3 separate regions of the Homo sapiens genome follow, and regions 2 and 3 are each linked to region 1. Evidence: fine-mapped expression QTL. A gene starts in region 1. Each other region holds a variant in brackets. All regions are shown on one strand. Distances are from middle to middle.

The links. PIP is the estimated chance that this variant, and not a neighbour inherited with it, causes the effect.
Region 2: its variant is the best candidate, but not a certain one, in a credible set for the expression of SCP2 in whole blood (INTERVAL, PIP 0.70).
Region 3: its variant is the best candidate, but not a certain one, in a credible set for the expression of SCP2 in whole blood (INTERVAL, PIP 0.73).

The regions. Positions count from the first base shown.
Region 1 is chr1:52,924,009-52,929,602 of GRCh38, forward strand. It overlaps SCP2 (sterol carrier protein 2), which reads left to right and starts at 3,268. Exons shown (of 16, transcript NM_002979.5): 1 at 3,268-3,457. The coding sequence starts at 3,389. It also overlaps the pseudogene LOC100652967. RefSeq lists a silencer at 3,031-3,310 and enhancers at 3,363-3,878, 3,531-3,590, 3,601-3,690.
Region 2 is chr1:52,776,536-52,782,196 of GRCh38, forward strand. It overlaps ZYG11B (zyg-11 family member B, cell cycle regulator), which reads left to right. Exons shown (of 14, transcript NM_024646.3): 4 at 3,318-3,458. Among named protein-coding and RNA genes, the nearest start is that of ZYG11B, 53 kb to the left of the region's middle. The variant A/G (reference allele first, on the strand shown) is at 2,650.
Region 3 is chr1:52,988,303-52,993,302 of GRCh38, forward strand. All of the region lies in intron 11 of SCP2 (sterol carrier protein 2), which reads left to right. It also overlaps the pseudogene RRAS2P1. Among named protein-coding and RNA genes, the nearest start is that of SCP2, 64 kb to the left of the region's middle. The variant T/C (reference allele first, on the strand shown) is at 1,925.

The sequences.
Region 1 (5,594 bases):
AAAACTAATATATACACAAAATCAAAACATACAAACTAGCCAGGCCCGGTGGCTCATGCCTGTAATCCCAGCACTTTAGGAGGCTGAGGTGGGTGGGTCACCTGAGGTCAGGAGTTCAAGACCAGCCTGGCCAACATGGTGAAACCCTGTCTCTACTAAAAATACAAAAATTAGCCAGGCGTGGTTGTGGGCAGCTGTAATCCCAGCTACTCAGGAGGCTGAGGTGCAAGAATCGCTTGAACCCAGGAGGTGGAGGTTGTAGTGAGCTGAGATCACACCACTGCACTCCAACCTGGGCAACAGAGTGAGATTCTGTCTTAAAAAAAAAAAAGAAGCAAAAACAAAACATACAAACTATAATTGGGTATAAGATTAAAAGAAAAACCTTCCCTCCTCCATATTCCATGCATTTATTGTATTCTATTTTATTGAGACAGGGTCTCACTCTGTTGCCCACATTGGAGTACAGTGGTGCAGTCAGTTCACTACAACCTCAGACTCCTGGGCTCAGGGGATCCTCCCGTCTCAGCCTTCCGAGTAGCTGGGACTACAGGAGTGGGCCACCACACTTGGCTCATTGTTAAATTTTTTGTAGAGACAGAGGTCTCCCTATGTTGCCAGGCTGGTCTCAAACACCTGGCCTCAAGTGATCCTCCCACCTCAGCCTCCCAAAGTGCTGGGATTACAGGTGTGAGCCCCCATGCCTGGCATCCACCCATTTAAAAAGATTTTTCTTGTTTTTTCTTCTTTTTTTTTAGAGATAGGGAGCTATGTTGCCCAGGTTGGTCTTGAATTCTTGGGCTCAATCAATCCTCCCATTTTGGCCTCCCAAAGTGCTGGGATTACAGGCATGAGCCACTGTGCCTCGCTGCTTTTTGTCTTTTTGTATTAACAGAAAAGGTCTCACTATGCTGTCCAGGCTGGAGTGCAGTGGCTATTCACAGGCATAATCGTAGCTCACTGCAGCCTTGAACTCCTGGACTCAAGCAGCCTTTCTGCCTCAGCTCCTCAAGTAGATGGGATTACAGTCTCGTACCACCACACCCAGCTTAAAATGATATTTATTGTATTTTATCTGGCATTTCTGGGTGTTTTTTTTTGGTATACTTATTCATGCCACAAAGTAAGTGGTACTTATATAAGTGTACAGTGATTTTCCAGGTTCCTTTCTAACATAGCTTGCTTAAATTCACAGGTCGACTAATGTTTCATTTCATGTGCATGCTAAGTGAAGCTGGTTAGTGATGACCATAAGCAGGTGGAGAAGCTTTCAATATTTTACTTATTTTATCAGTACTCCTGATTTTATAAATGATGAGGCTCATTAACCCCATTCCTACTCAAATCTCCTGATAAACTTGGTTATAATAGGGCTTCATGGGGATCCAAACATTTTTAATAATGTTTTGAAGCATCTTGGTGTGGGACAAACAGCTCAGGCTACCCCAGAGCCCCACATCCAATGACTTAGAAAAGTCTGTGTTTTATAGTGGGAAAAGTTTGGATTATTTAGTCCTTCACATTGGAAAGGGAAGTGTTTTTTCTCAGTCTTTTCGGTATTAACAAATACCTTTTATATTACTATCTATCCCCTCTGCCCTCTATGGACTCTTATTTTGAAAGCAATATCCAGTGGACAGCCAGGATTTGTTACATAACAATTAATCTTGACCTTAGGACTTGTTGTTCTATTAGGTTGGTAACTTTGTCTGATCCACCAATCATATTGCTGTCTTGTCAGTCCATCAGTTTCAAGAAACAACTGTACATGTCAGTGCCCTGATTTGTGTTTGTTTTTCTTTTTTTTTTTTTTTTGTTTCGTTTTGGTTTTTTAGAGACGTGGTCTTGGTATGTTGCCCAGGCTGGAGTGCAGTGGCTATTCAGAGGTGTAATCATAGCACATTTGTAGCCTTGAATTCCCAGGCTCAAGTGATCTTTCTGCCGAAGCCTCCTGAGCAGATGGGAGGCGTGCATCACTGAGCGCAGCAATTTTACTAAGTTGGTCTAGTCCTAGCTCAGTAGTTCTTTACTTAGCACAGAGGGGGCTTCTTAGAATCTCCTAAACTTGATCTTAGCCAAATGGCCAAGAAGCAATCCTTAGAATCTTCTAGGAGAGCCTTTCTAAATGCTGATACTGCAAACCGAAAAGTATATGAAACGGATCTCAATTAATTTAGAAGTTAATTTTGCCAAGTTTAAGGACGTGCATCATCTTTGGAGACAGGTCCGTGCCTTTCTCCAAAGATGATTTTGAGGGCTTCAGTTTTTATAGGGGAAGGGGCAGATATTGGGGAAAGATGAATAAATTTTAAAAAGATGTGGGTAGATAAGAGGCAAACGGTTGCATTCTTCTGAGTCTTTGATCAACCTTCACATGTGAGGGGGGTAGAGAAATAGTCACTTATGCATTCATCTAGCTCAATGAATCTGCATTTTTACATAAGATAAAATAAACCGGGGAGCCGGGCGCGGTGGCTCACGCCTGTAATCCCAGCACTTTGGGAGGCCAAGGTGGGTAGATCACCTAAGGTCAGGAGTTCCAGACCAGCCTGGCCAACATGGCGAAACCCCATCTCTACTAAAAATACAAAAATTAGCGGGGCGTGGTGGCGCGCGCCTGTAATCCCAGATACTCGGGAGGCTGAGGCAGGAGGATTGCTTGAACCTGGGAGGCGGAGGCTGCAGTGAGCCGAGTTCGCGGCATTGCACTCCAGCCTGGGCGACAGAGCGAGACTCCGGTCTCCAATAAACATGGAAGGCTGTTTCTCCCCGGTTTGCTGGAATAAAGTCTCTGTCTTCCAAATTCCTTTTCGGAGAACTTTTGTTCACAAGATTAAAAAGGTCACGCAGCTGGTGACGGAGCCTGGGTTTTTTGATTTAGACATTGTATCCATGTGTGAGATCCTGCCCATCCCCGCTTTCTTGGTGTCCTGTGAGTTTAAATTCATGAATTCACTCTCAACTGCCACCGCTAACAGGACACAGGCCAATTCCAACACGAACCCCAACGGCTCTCCTCAGGGTCACCTTTCATGAGTCCGCTTTCCGGCCAACCCCTCCTCTCAGTCTTAGGCCCCACTGCAAGCCTACTCCCGCTCACCGTACAGAACCTAAGCACAGGATCAGAGATGGGGACAGGTTGACTCAGTCCCATGCCCAAGTCCGCAAATTAGGGATTCGGCTGCCTAAGGGCTAGAGAACGCTCCCCGCCCCACAGGACGCGCCCCACCCCGCCCCCTCCTCCTGCCCCTACGCACGCGCACTCTCACGCGCCTGTGTTGCCGCCCGCGGCCCTGGCTTCGGGCTTCAGGGAGCTCTGGTGCAGTCTCCGCCTGTCAGTGCCGGCAGTCGTCCGCGGCGCCCGCCCCGGTCCCGCACTGGTGCAGCCATGTCCTCTTCCCCGTGGGAGCCTGCGACCCTGCGCCGGGTGTTCGTGGTGGGGGTTGGCATGACCAAGGTAAACCGAGCAGCGGCCCTGCTGGCCCTCTGAGGCTCGGGGGCGGTCGGTGCCTGGGTTTCTCTGTCCCTCCGGTCTCCTAGCTTCGACTGCTCCGCGCGTGGGTCATCGGCGTGGCGACTTGGTGGCTTGTACTCTGCGGAATCTCTGGGGTCATAGCGTCTCGGGCTGGTTCCTGCGGCCTTCTGCTTCCTCCTTCCCTTTTCTTCTGGTCAGAGTTCATGAAGCAGCCCCGAGATAATCCAAGGATCTCACCTCTTTAGATTCTGAGCGGAGTCCCGAGGTGTGTGGGCTGGCTTGCCCCGGAGGGAGGCAGGTCGCGAATGCCGCCTGCTCGGCCCTCCCAGGAACAGCCCCCACAGGAGCCCTCACAGAGACAGCTCCAGATGTGGATGGCGAGGAGAAACGCTCCTGATGCCCAGCGCCTCGGCCCGAGTGGCAGATTCCGGCCTCCCTCTGTCCCTCCAGTGACTGCTTGGGACCCGGACGCCGCAGGCTCCCACGGCCGTTTTCCCCTCATCGCCCGCATGCTCCTTAATGCCAAACTGCCTTTCGTTTCTCCCCGGACGCAGTTGTCTGATGCCTCTGTTGCTTTGCTTCTGTTCTGTTTGTACCGTGTATCTTCACCTGTTAACTTTTGTGCATCCTGAAAGGATCCGTTCAGATCGGATCTTCTCCAGGACGCCTCGGATCCTCCTGACTTTCCCCTAGAGCCTTGCACTGTGCTTACCTCTGTCCTGCACTTACTGTGCTCGGCAGTACCGGGCAGTACTAAAGCTCATAGGCGTCTGCGCGCCCTCTTAGCATGGCAGCTCCTCTAGACTGGGTACCTGGCTTATTCACTGCTGTGCCCCTCGCCCTGAACGTTCCTGATGCTTGAAGACCCTCAGTGAATGTTAGTTGAACAATACTAAATGGATATGCTTTGTGAAAGAGTTCCTAGGGAGAGTTCTATTTCTGAGAAAACAGCCCTAAAATGTTTATTATTTTACCAGTGGGCTGAGCGTACCTAATTCAGTCCAACATGTAAATAGGCCGGGGCCGGTGGCTCACGCCTGTAATCCCAGCACTTTGGGAGGCCAAGGCGGGTGGATCACCTGAGGTCAAGAGTTCGAGACCAGCCTGGCCAACATGGTGAAACCCCGTCTCTACTAAAAATACGAAAATTAGTCGGGCATGGTAGCACACGCCAGCTACTCGGGAGGCTGAGGTGGGAGGATTGCTTGAGCCTGGGAGATGGAGGTTGCAGTGAGCTGAGATCACGCAACTGCACCCCCAGCCTGGGCCATAGAGTCAGTCCTTGTCTCAACAAAAACAAAAAATATCCATGGAAATGGAAAAGTGGACCAATACCTTATGAAGCGGAAGGACATCATCCTAGTGTTTCACAGAAGGGGAGGCTTCTAACACAGGTGGACAGTAGGATCTTTCGAAGTAAGGTATTAATGCAGTCAAACCTTCCTCTGGCTGCTGAATGCCTGATTATATGTGCTGTATGGAAAAGCACAGTTGTCTAAACCTTTGGGAAATAGATGTATTCCTTTTTCCTCAAGTTGGGAGGTAGAGGTCGGGGAGGTGTTACAGTCCAGAGGAAAGTGGTGAGGAGTTTGGGTAGTGCCATTAATGATGTGCCTATCTGGCCAGTGTACTTTGCTATAGGTCTGGTCTTCTGCACCTTGGGACAGAGTTTGATGGAGGAGGGAGAAATATTGACTAGACAACACTGTAACACTTTTTTTTTTTTTTTTGGAAGACGGAGTTTTGCTCTGTCAACCAGATGGGAAGGCAGTGGTGCAATCATAGCTCACTGCAGCCTTGAACTCCTGGACTCTAGCGATCCTACCGAGTAGCTAGGACTACAGGCATTCTACCATACCTGGCTAATTAAAAAAAAATTTTTTTTGTAGAGACAGGGTCTCACTACTTACTACTAGATGGGTCTCATTTCTACCATATATTACTGTTATAATTTATCATAATACTTTATTTTTATTTTTTGAGACAGAGTCTCACTCTGTCCCCCAGTCTGGAGTGCAGTGGGGCGATCTCAGCTCACTGCAACCTCTGCCTCCCAGGTTCAAGTGATTCTTCTGCTCAGCCTCCCAAGTAGGTGGGATTACAGGTGTGTGCCACCATG
Region 2 (5,661 bases), 150 kb before region 1:
AAAAAAAAAAAAAAAAATTGGCTTAGAGTCTTTAACATTCCAGTAACAAGAGTTCTTTAATTTTATATTCAAGGTAACTTGAGGATATATTTCGTATAAGAGATTTATAAAGCTGTTGGAACCAACCAAATGTGGGTAAAGGAAGAATAAAGTCTGATTTAGATTATTTTATATTTCCCTCTTAGAGTTTTTTTCATTTCACATTTCAGCATTTTTTGTTTTTTTCTGAATTTATAAGAAAAAGTTCTGGGTGATTCAATGAACTGAACACTTTGAAAAATTTTATTAAATACCCATTTGTATATGTGAATATGTAGTCCAAACCAGTTTGTGTATGTATGTTATACATAAATAGAAAGTTTAAAAAGGGTTTAAAGAAGTAAAGTAATGGAGGCTGGAAGTGGTGGCTCATGCCTGTAATCCCAGCACTTTAGGAGGCCGAGGTTGGCTGATCATTTGAGGTCAGGAGTTCGAGACCAGCCTGGCCAACATGACGAAATCCCGTCTCTACTAAAAATACAAAAATTAGCCGGGCGTGGTGGCGGGCGCCTGTAATCCCAGCTACTCAGGAGGCTGAGGCATGACAATTGCTTGAACCCGGGAAGTAGAGGTTGCAGTGAGCCGAGATCGTGCCACTGCACTCCAGTCTGGGCGACAGAGCAAGACCGTATCTCAAAAAAAAGGAAAAAAAAGAGAAAAGACGTAAAGTAATGGAAGTAAAGAAACTTTTATTATTATTTCAACAATCTTAGAAATTCTTCATATGTACCCTTGTGTCATGTGACATATATCAATACTGTAGTCTAATTCATTTCAGACTCTTGTAGCATATCCTATTAATGGTTGAAATGTCAACCATGATACATCCCTTCATTTCCTCAAAGCTGCATATTCCAATCTGAACGTTTATAGGCTTTTTTGTTTTTTTTGATAGAGTCTCACTCTGTTGCGCATCATGGAGTGCTGTGGCACAGTCATGGCTTACTGCAGCCTCAAATTCGTGGGCTCAAGCAGTCCTCTTCAGTCTCCCAAGTAGCTGGGACTACAGGCATGCACCATCACACGTAACTAATTTTTCTTTTCTTTTATAGAGACAGGGTCTTACTATGTTCCCCAGGCTGGTTTTGAACTCCTGGGCTCAAGTGATCCTCCTGCTTCTACCTCCCAAAGTGCTGGGATTACAGGCATGAGCCATCATGCCTGGCTGAATATTATATGTTTATATACAACTTAGTTACTGAGTAATATATTTTTAAAATATTTGATTACTTTTGTGTCACACTGTATAATGTTACTGCCAAAAAAGACTAAATCTTCCCCTTATTATGAGATAGTCGCTCTGAATGACGTTTTTTGGCATTTTTTAAAACTTTATTGTAAAATAAAACAGAGACAAAGGCAGTAAATAATTATATAGCTTAATGAGTTGAAAATAAAGTGAACACACTTGAGACCATCACTCAGGTTAAGTAACAGAACTTTGTCATCTACCCCAAAGCTCGCTTCAGCCTCCCAAAGTGGTGGGATTACAGGCGCGAGCCACTACACCCAACCATGTCCTTTCATTTCTTTATAATTTTATGACCCAACTATTTAGGCACCTGTATAATCTTGTCTGTTTAAAACAATTTGATGTCTTTTGAGTATCTTTTAGTTTATAGGTTTCTCCTCATCCCTTTCTTTTCCTTATAATTTGTTTATTGAATAATCTATCGTTTGGATTTGTAGAGTTTCCCTCAGTCTGGATTTTATTGTATTTGTTGATGTTTTGTAGAGACAGGGTCTTGCTGTGTTGCCCAGGCTGGTCTGGAACTCCTGGGGTTAAAGTGATGCTCCTGCCTCAGCCTCCGAAAGTGCTGGGATTACAGATATAAGCCACTCTGCCAGCCTGGATTTTGCTGATTGTATACTAATGGTGCATCTTTCTCTTTGTATTTTCTGCAAATTGGTAGCTGGATTTGGAGGCTTAATTAGACTTACGTTAGATCCCTTTGGCCAGACCCTTAGGTGTTGTATTCTTACGTTATGAGGTACATAAATATCTAGTTGTTTCTCTTTCTGTGATGTTAGCAGTTATTGACACTTAGTAGCTAGATCTATCAATTCATTGGGGATTATGGTGATATTTTAATCATTTATTTTTCACTTACTAGTTGGATTACTTTTATAAAGAGCCACTTTCTGCTACCTACGTTTGGTTGCCGAATGGCACCTGAACTACATTTTAAGATAAGCGTATTATCTTAAAATAATATACTTTTATGTTGGGAATCCCTAGAAAGACTTAATTTTAAACAGAACCTCTTGGTGCTGAAAAGGAGCGTGATAAATCTGGGGAAATTAATTGATACATTTATTTGATGAATACTTATGGAGAAAGTATTCTGAGCCAAGCATAACGCTAGCTATTGTGGTACAATGGTGAATGGATCAATGTAGTGGGGGATTATGATAATAGCTCTGAAAGAGATGTTTCAGGGGACCTAACTTAAATCAGTGGCTCAACAAAGACTTCTCTAAGAAAGTGTCCTTAACTTGAATAAGGAAGAATGAGTAGAAATTAGTCAGGTAAAGAGAGAAAGGAAGTTTTCAGTCAGAGAGGACATTGTATGAGTGGTCCTTTGCTGAGAAAAAGCTTGACTTACGGAA[A/G]GGTGAGGAAAAAAGGTCATACAGTTATAACATTGTGAGCTAGAGGGAGGGGATTAAGAGGCAGATAGGATCCTAATCAAGCGGTAGGGCCTTATAATAGTGTTAAATATCTTGAGATCTATTTTAGGTATAATACAGAAAATTTCGCCCATGGTCTTATGCTAGGTTCTGAGCCTATCTAATATACATCTCTTCAAGACAGATATAGCTGTTTAAGATGACTAATCTGGATAGATTGGAAAGTATAGTCATTTTTATTTGATCCCAGCTTTACATAACTATCCAAGATACCATGTATACAAATGATATTTATTTATTTATTTAGAGACAGAGTCTTGCTGTGTTGCCCAGGCTGGAGTGCAGTGGCGTGATCTCAGCTCACTGTAACCTCCGCCTCCTGGGTTCAAGCGATTCTCCTGCCTCAGCCTCCTGAGTAGCTGCAGTTACAGGCATGCACCACCGTGCTTGGCTAATTTTTTATTTTTAGTAGAGATGGAGTTTCACCATGTTGGCCAGGGTGGTCTCGAACTCCTGACTTCACATGATCCACCCACCTTGGCCTCCCAAAGTACTGGGATTACAGGCGTGAGCCACCGCGCCTGGCCACACATGATAATTAGATAGAGAAAGAGAGAGAATTCTAAAAGCTAATCTGGTTATGTTCACAGGTGTCTGGGGAAGCCAATGAAACTCAGATTGCAGAAGCACTGAAGCGTTACAGTGAACGGGCATTCTTTGTTCGGGAAGCTCTATTTCATCTTTTTAGTCTGACTCATGTGATGGAAAAAACAAAGCCAGAAATTTTAAAGGTAAGAATAAGAAACTGGATATGAAATTTTTGAAATGATCTCCCTGGGCAGATGATTTTTTGAAGAAAATTGGTGAAAATTTGCATTTAGTCTTTTTTTATTATTTATAATGTGATTGATGACGTGTGATTTCAATCATTAGCTATAAACGAGAGAGAAGATAGTTGTACAATGTTATTGAAGCTTCACAATAATCTCATTAAGCAATATAAATGTCTTGTAGTACATATTTATCTACCTAAAACCAGTGACTACCATGATATTTTATCACCAGCTACTGTAGAAAATGAAAGTATATGACTGGAATCAGGACACTGTATTGTATATTAACCCTATATTGCTTCCCAAATAGATTTTTTAGAAATACAATATTGCACCAAATATGGTAGTTCATGCCTGTAATCCTAGCACTTCAGGAGCTGAGACAGATGGGTAGCTTGAGCCCAGGAGTTCGAGACCAGCCTGAGCAAGATGGCAAAACCCCATTCCTACAAAAAGTATTAAAAAAATAAAAAAAAGAGAGAAGTAAAGACAAAGCAAATATTGAAATTCTATAAGGTACTTTTCCATGCTGTTTAGAACCTACTATGCATTCTTAACTGATTTACATTACTCCGCAATTAAGTTTTGTTTTGTTTTTAAGACATAGGGTCTTACTGTGTTCCCCAGGCAAGAGTGCAGTGGCTGTTCACAGGCCTCAAACTCCTGGGCTCAAGCAATCCTGTCTTAACCTCCCAAGTAGCTAGGACTACAGGTGTGTACATCACAGCACCTAGCTATTTTAACCAAAACAGCTTTTGAAGGGCAAGAAAGGAGATTTCTTAATTTTATTGAATGCTTTGGGCAACATTTATCAAAATGTGGTCCTTTGGGCCAGGACGCAGTGGCTCACACCTGTAATAACTTTGGGAGGCTGAGGCAGGTGGGTCACTTGGGGCCAGGAGTTCTAGACCAGCCTGGCCAACATGGCGAAACCCCATCTCTACTAAAAATACAAAAAATTAGCCAAATGTGGTGGTGCACGCCAGTAATCCCAGCTACTCAGGAGGCTGAGGCATGAGGAACCTGGGAGGCCGAGTTTACAGTGAGCCGAGATCGTGCCACTGCACTCCAGCATGAGCAACAGAGCAAGACTCTCTCAAAACAACAACAACAACAACAACCAAAGTTGTCCTTTAACCACTAGAAGTCTAGGATGTTGCTTATTTAAAAAGCTTATTTGTGGCCAGGCATGGTGGCTCACACCTGTAATCCCAGTACTTTGGGAAGCCAAGGCAGGCAGATCACTTGAGCTCAGGAGTTCAAGACCAGCCTGGGCAACATGGCAAAACCCCATCTCTACAAAAATTACAAAAATTAGCCAGCTGTGGTGGCACGCACCTGTAGTCCCAGCTACATGGGACACTGAGGCGGGAGAATTGCTCAAGCCAGGGAGGCAGAGGTTACAGCGAGCTGAGATCATGCTACCACACTCCAACCTGGGTGACAGGAGTGAAAACTTGTCTTAAAAGAGAAAAAAAAAAGATATTTGTAAACCCCACTCCCAAAAATTTAGATTCAGTAGGGCTAGATGAGGCACAGGAATCTACGTTTTAATAAGCCCCCAAGATAATTCCAAGGTAATTCTTACGCACGTTCAATTTTGAAAACCAATGAGCTTAGGACTCTATTATATTTGGCACCTCATTTAGTGGGCACAATTCCAAGAGATGGGTTTTATCTTCTGTTTTACAGATAATGAAATTGAGGTTCTGTGACGTTAAGTAATAATAAGTCAGTGGCAGAGCCACAACTTGATATCCTACATATCTTAAATTCTGAGAATGAGGCGCTTGGGTAGGAACCAGTAACATTTTAGTCCTTAGGATATTATCACCAACACCTGTCACTCCTTTTATATATATCAGAGGATGTTGGCACTTGGTATATGAATTGTCTTTTTTTTTTTGTTTTGATTACTGTGAACTGAGCAACAGAAGACTAGATCTCTAGTCTTGATCTGAAATATTCATTCAGACATTCAGAGAATGATTCAGAGATAAATGGAAGAATATAGGCTATTTATTTATTTATTTATTTGTTTATTTATTGAGGTAGCATCTCACTCTGTCACCCATGCTGGAGTGCAGTGGCATGATCATGGCTCACTGCAGCCTCGACCTCCCTCCTGGGCTCAAATGATCCCCCTTCCTCAGCCTCCAGA
Region 3 (5,000 bases), 64 kb after region 1:
CTTAAATAATCTTCATTAATTGATGAGAATTTGAATTAATTAAAACTAAATTCAGGATGTTTCCAAATAGAGATCTTACTAGACCTGCTAAATAAGAATCATTTGAAATGAGCATGTTATTTATATGTAGTTGTATACATGGTTGACATTGCATGGAAATTATTTTCTCTTGAGACAACTGGACTAGAATTTATAAAGTAAGAATTTTACTATGGCTCTGCTGTTGACTGGCTGGCCGTGTGAAACTATTTTTATCAGTCAATCACTTTAACTTTTAATTCCTTAATTATAAAATGACAAACTTGTACAATGTGGTTTCTGTTTTTTTAAATAAAAAATTAAGCCCAAACCTCACCATGCAATTCCTTTTTTCTTTCTTTCTTTTCTTTTTTTTTTTTTTTGAGATGGAGTCTCGCTCTGTTGCCCAGGCTGGAAAGAAGTGGCACAATTTCGGCTCATTGCAGCCCCTGCCTCCCGGGTTCAAGCCATTCTCCTGCCTTAGCCTCCTGAGTAGCTGGGACTACAGGCTTGTGCCACCATGCCCAGCTAATTTTTGTATTTTTTTTTTTAGTAGAGATGGAGTTTCACCATGTTGGCCAGGCTGGTCTTGAACTCCTGACCTCAAGTGATCCACCTGCCTCAGCCTCCCAGAGTGCTGGGATTACCGGCATGGGCCACACACGGCCACAACATGCATTTTTAATATATCACAGTCTACCTTCAAATAGTGTTATGCCATTTTGTATATAACGTAAGATTTTTACAGCTGCCTATCTATTTACCTTCTCCTATCTTTTGTGTTATTGTTTCCATACACTTATTCCTAAGTATATTATAACCCTCACAATATACTATTATTATTGTTGCTTTAAACAATCTAATATCTTTCAAAGAAATCTAAGAATTATGGGGATGATCAGTGATGTTATGGGAAGTGGCAAAATAACAACATCCAAAAATCCTGTCCTTTATAAAAGTTCGGAGAACTCTGGCAAAAATTGTCAAGATCAACTTTTTCCATAACTTTAAAAATTAACCAGATTTACAACAATCTGTTGGGAGTGGAGGTGGGGGGTGCTTAAAACAACAACAAAGAACATAATCTCTGTGAGAGCAACGAGCTTTGTGGCATTTTCACCTGCCTTAACACCTCCCTCTTTCTGCAGCTCCACTGTAGCCTTGAAAACCTACAGCTTGCAGTCATGGTGAAAATTAGCAGCCTAGCTGGCACTGAGCAAGTCAGAACAGAGTTGGAGCTCTTTCAAAGCCCCTTCCTTAGAGAACTGTCATTATATGACCTGTCTGACAGTGTCCTGGTAAACCCCACTTGAAAGCTTTGTCTTTATTTCACCTCACTGAAAACTCACCCAGTGCAAAGAGTATTTTCCCTAGAGGCAATTGTCGAGAAAAATCAGCCACAACTGTTCAACAAAGTAGCTACCTCAGGTGCCAATTGGGGTAAACAACAAAATAACCAAAAAAAAGGAAAAGTTGGGGAGTAGGATGTCCATAGGGGGCTTTGAAAAGATCTGATATGTTCCTGAGAATCTAGAAGCCTAATGGCGTATATAAGGTCAGAGTTGTGTGCATGCTCAGGAAAGACCTGAGAAGGTCCTAAGCTCACCTCTGGCTAAACTTGGGGCTCTGCACAAGCAAAAGGCAAAGGCTAAGGTAGAATTGTAAACTGCCTGGCTGAGTACCACATTATGCAGGTAGAGGTCCAGTAAAGACCAGGAGACTTTTTAGTTCAGTCATTTAAGGACATCTCTGTCCAGTCAGTAGCTGAGGGAAGAGAAAATTCAGTGGCCATGTGGGACAAAGATTACAGACTTTATAGAATTAGCTTGGAAAAGTCACTAAATAAACAACCACAACAATAAACAGCAACAACAACAACAACAAACTGGGAAAGAGGAGGATTTGA[T/C]TTTTAGAGAAGCTACATTATTTAAAATGTCCAGTTTTCAACAAAAAAAAAGAAAGACATGCAGATAAACAATAAAGGGTGACCTATGTACCTAGGAAAAAAAGCAGTCAATAGAGACTATCCCTGAGGAAGCCAAAACATTGGACTTACTAGACAAAGACTTTAACTAGCTATTTTAAATATATTAAAGGAAACCATATATAAAGAACTAAAGGAAAGTATGAGAACAATGTTTCTCCAGGTAGAGAATATTAATAAATAGAAATTATAAAAAAGACAACCAGGCACGGTGGGTCAGGAGATCAAGACCATCCTGGCTAACGCAGTGAAACACCGTCTCTACTAAAAATACAAAAAGTTAGCCAGGCGTGGTGGCGGGCGCCTGCAGTCCCAGCTACTTGGGAGGCTGAGGCAGGAGAATGGCGTGAACCCGGGAGGCGGAGCCTGCAGTGAGCCGAGATCATGCCACTGCACTCCAGCCTGGACGACAGAGTGAGACTCCGTCTCAAAAAAAAAAAAAAAAAAAAAAAAAAATTAAAGGTATAGGTGGAGAAGAAGAACCATTTAAGAATAATGAGAGGGAATGCTCAGTTAGCCAAGGAAGGAGAGTGTTTCAAAAGTAAGAGATTAGGCCACAAAAGTTAGATAGATAAAGAATGAAAAGTGTCCTTCAGATTTGGCTGTTACAAAGTCGTTGGCAATCTTGGAGCAATTTTGAAGAAGTGTTTTGCATGGAAGCAGATGAGATTCAGAAAGAATTATAAGTGAGAAAGTGGCAATAATAGTGCAGGTACACTTTTAGAAATAGTGGCTATGAATGGAAAGTGATATATATGTAAGGGATGTACCTGAATTATAGGTACGTGTTCTGTATGAATGAAGTCTTGGGTTTGAACCTAGCCTCTTCACTCTCTTTAGTATGTAGCTTAGCCAGTTAATCCTAGTTTCTTATCTATAAAATGGGAATATAGTACCTACCTTATAAGGCTGTTCTGTGGATTAAGTGAGGAAATATATGTATGTAAAGTATATAGTAGAGTCCCCCAAAAAGAGTAGGAACACAATAACTTCCAGAATTCCCTTCCCAACTACAAAAGGGAGCCATGATGGATCTGCTTAACTGGTTCTTGTTTGTTTGTTTGCCAGTAATAAACCTCTTGTTTTTTTTTTCTTTTTTCTTTTTTTTTTCCTTGAAACGGAGTCTTGCTTTGTCGCCCAGGCTGGAGCGCAGTAGCGCGATCTTGGCTCACTGCAACCTCCGCCTCCCAGGTTCAAGCGATTCTTCTGCCTCAGCCTCCCAAGTAGCCGGGATTATGGGCATGTGCCACCACGCCCAGCTAATTTTTGTATTTTTAGTGGAGACAGGGTTTCACCAGGTTGGTCAGGCTGGTCTTGAACTCCTGACCTTGTGATCTGCCTGCCTCGGCCTCCCAAAGTGCTGGGATTACAGGCATGAACCACCACGCCCAGCCCAAACCTCTTGTTTTTATCACAGTATGAAAAATAATTTTTAACCATTTTTGGAAAAGAATGTTCTTTAATTTGGTTTTTTTTTTTGTGATAACAGATCAATTTTAATTCTAGTACCTGAAGCTATACAAGGGTATGCTCTATAAACTTCATGGGACTGTTGTACACACTTGATAAAGTGACAACCGTGCAATACCACTTAGCATCTCAAAATCAGGAACATACTATTGAATTGCTTAAATACAATCCACAGAATTAAAAACAAAATCAGATGCCATCCACAGTTATACTAATTATCCATTAAAAGCTTACACTTAATACTTGAAATAACAATCAATATCTAGCAGGGAATACTGAAAGTGATTTCAGAGTCTCATCCTGTTGTACTCTGTTGGGAAGGTTTCTTGAGTAGATGTGTGACTGGCCAAAGATGGGTACAACCAAGACCAGACCAGCAAGTAAAAGTTCTACCACAGTTTCTGTAGTTTCCACTTGTTTTTCTTTGTCAGTTAAAAGTGAACAGTGAGAATTAAATACTTATCTTTACATATACACAAGGTATGCTATGAAAGCGTATCTGCTTACAAACATATAAAAATATTTGTTAACTAGTTTGATAAGAAAATAATGTATAAAAGTATATAGCAAAAACATTAATCATCTCTGACCCCAGAAAGATCAATTCCATATTTTATATTACAAACAAAAACAGTTTTAGTTTTTTGAATCCCTTACCCAGAAATACTTGAAAAGGAAGACAGACAGAAATTATTCCTTTTTACCCTTAGCGTGGCTGTGAAAAAGAGTTAAATTAAAAAACCAAGTACACTCAAATATCTAAGTCCTAAATGAGTCCAAATATTTGACCACGTAGAATATTACCATCTTCAAGAGTAGGAGCAGTAACACAGGCTTTTATGAGCAGTTTTTAATCCATAAATACAATAGGCATTTGGTATTTTGGCCACCAGAAAACAAAAGTTGTAGTATAAGTAAAGGTCTGAGATGGTTCACTTTTGTAGATTCAATTCAGTGTATTTAAGGTTAACAAAGGCTGACATTGAAATGTTTAAAGATAGGCAAAAATTCACATTAAAAAAACCCTATATTTCTATTTAGAGTAACAGTAGGCAGTGTGATTCCAAAAGTTAAAAATTATTTCACAACCTGTAGCTTCAGCTTGGCAAACAGCTTAGATTCCAAAACTGATTCATCTCTATTAAAATGTAAGCACTTAAAAAAAGAGCATGTCTGTGTATATAGACATATATTTTAAAGGAATCAGATAATCTTTGAAGCAGCCTTAGTGTTTCCTTTAAGTTTGTCTGGAAATGACCATTGTATTAGCTTCACAGAAAGGACTAGCCAGCTTCTTGGTCTAAGGCTAACATGGTGATCATTTGTCTAAGGCTAGAAAGGTACCAACAAGATGTAAACTGAGGAGAGGAAGAGAAGATGAGGGCTTTTCCTGGCAGTTGGTAGCTAAAACTGAAGGGATTCTAGAAAATGACACAATGGCAGCCTTTCTTGTCTTTTTCTTTCCGTGTTGGTTCTGGTGAAGGAGGACATTCCTGCTCTTGAAATTTCCTGATAACCCGGACAAGTT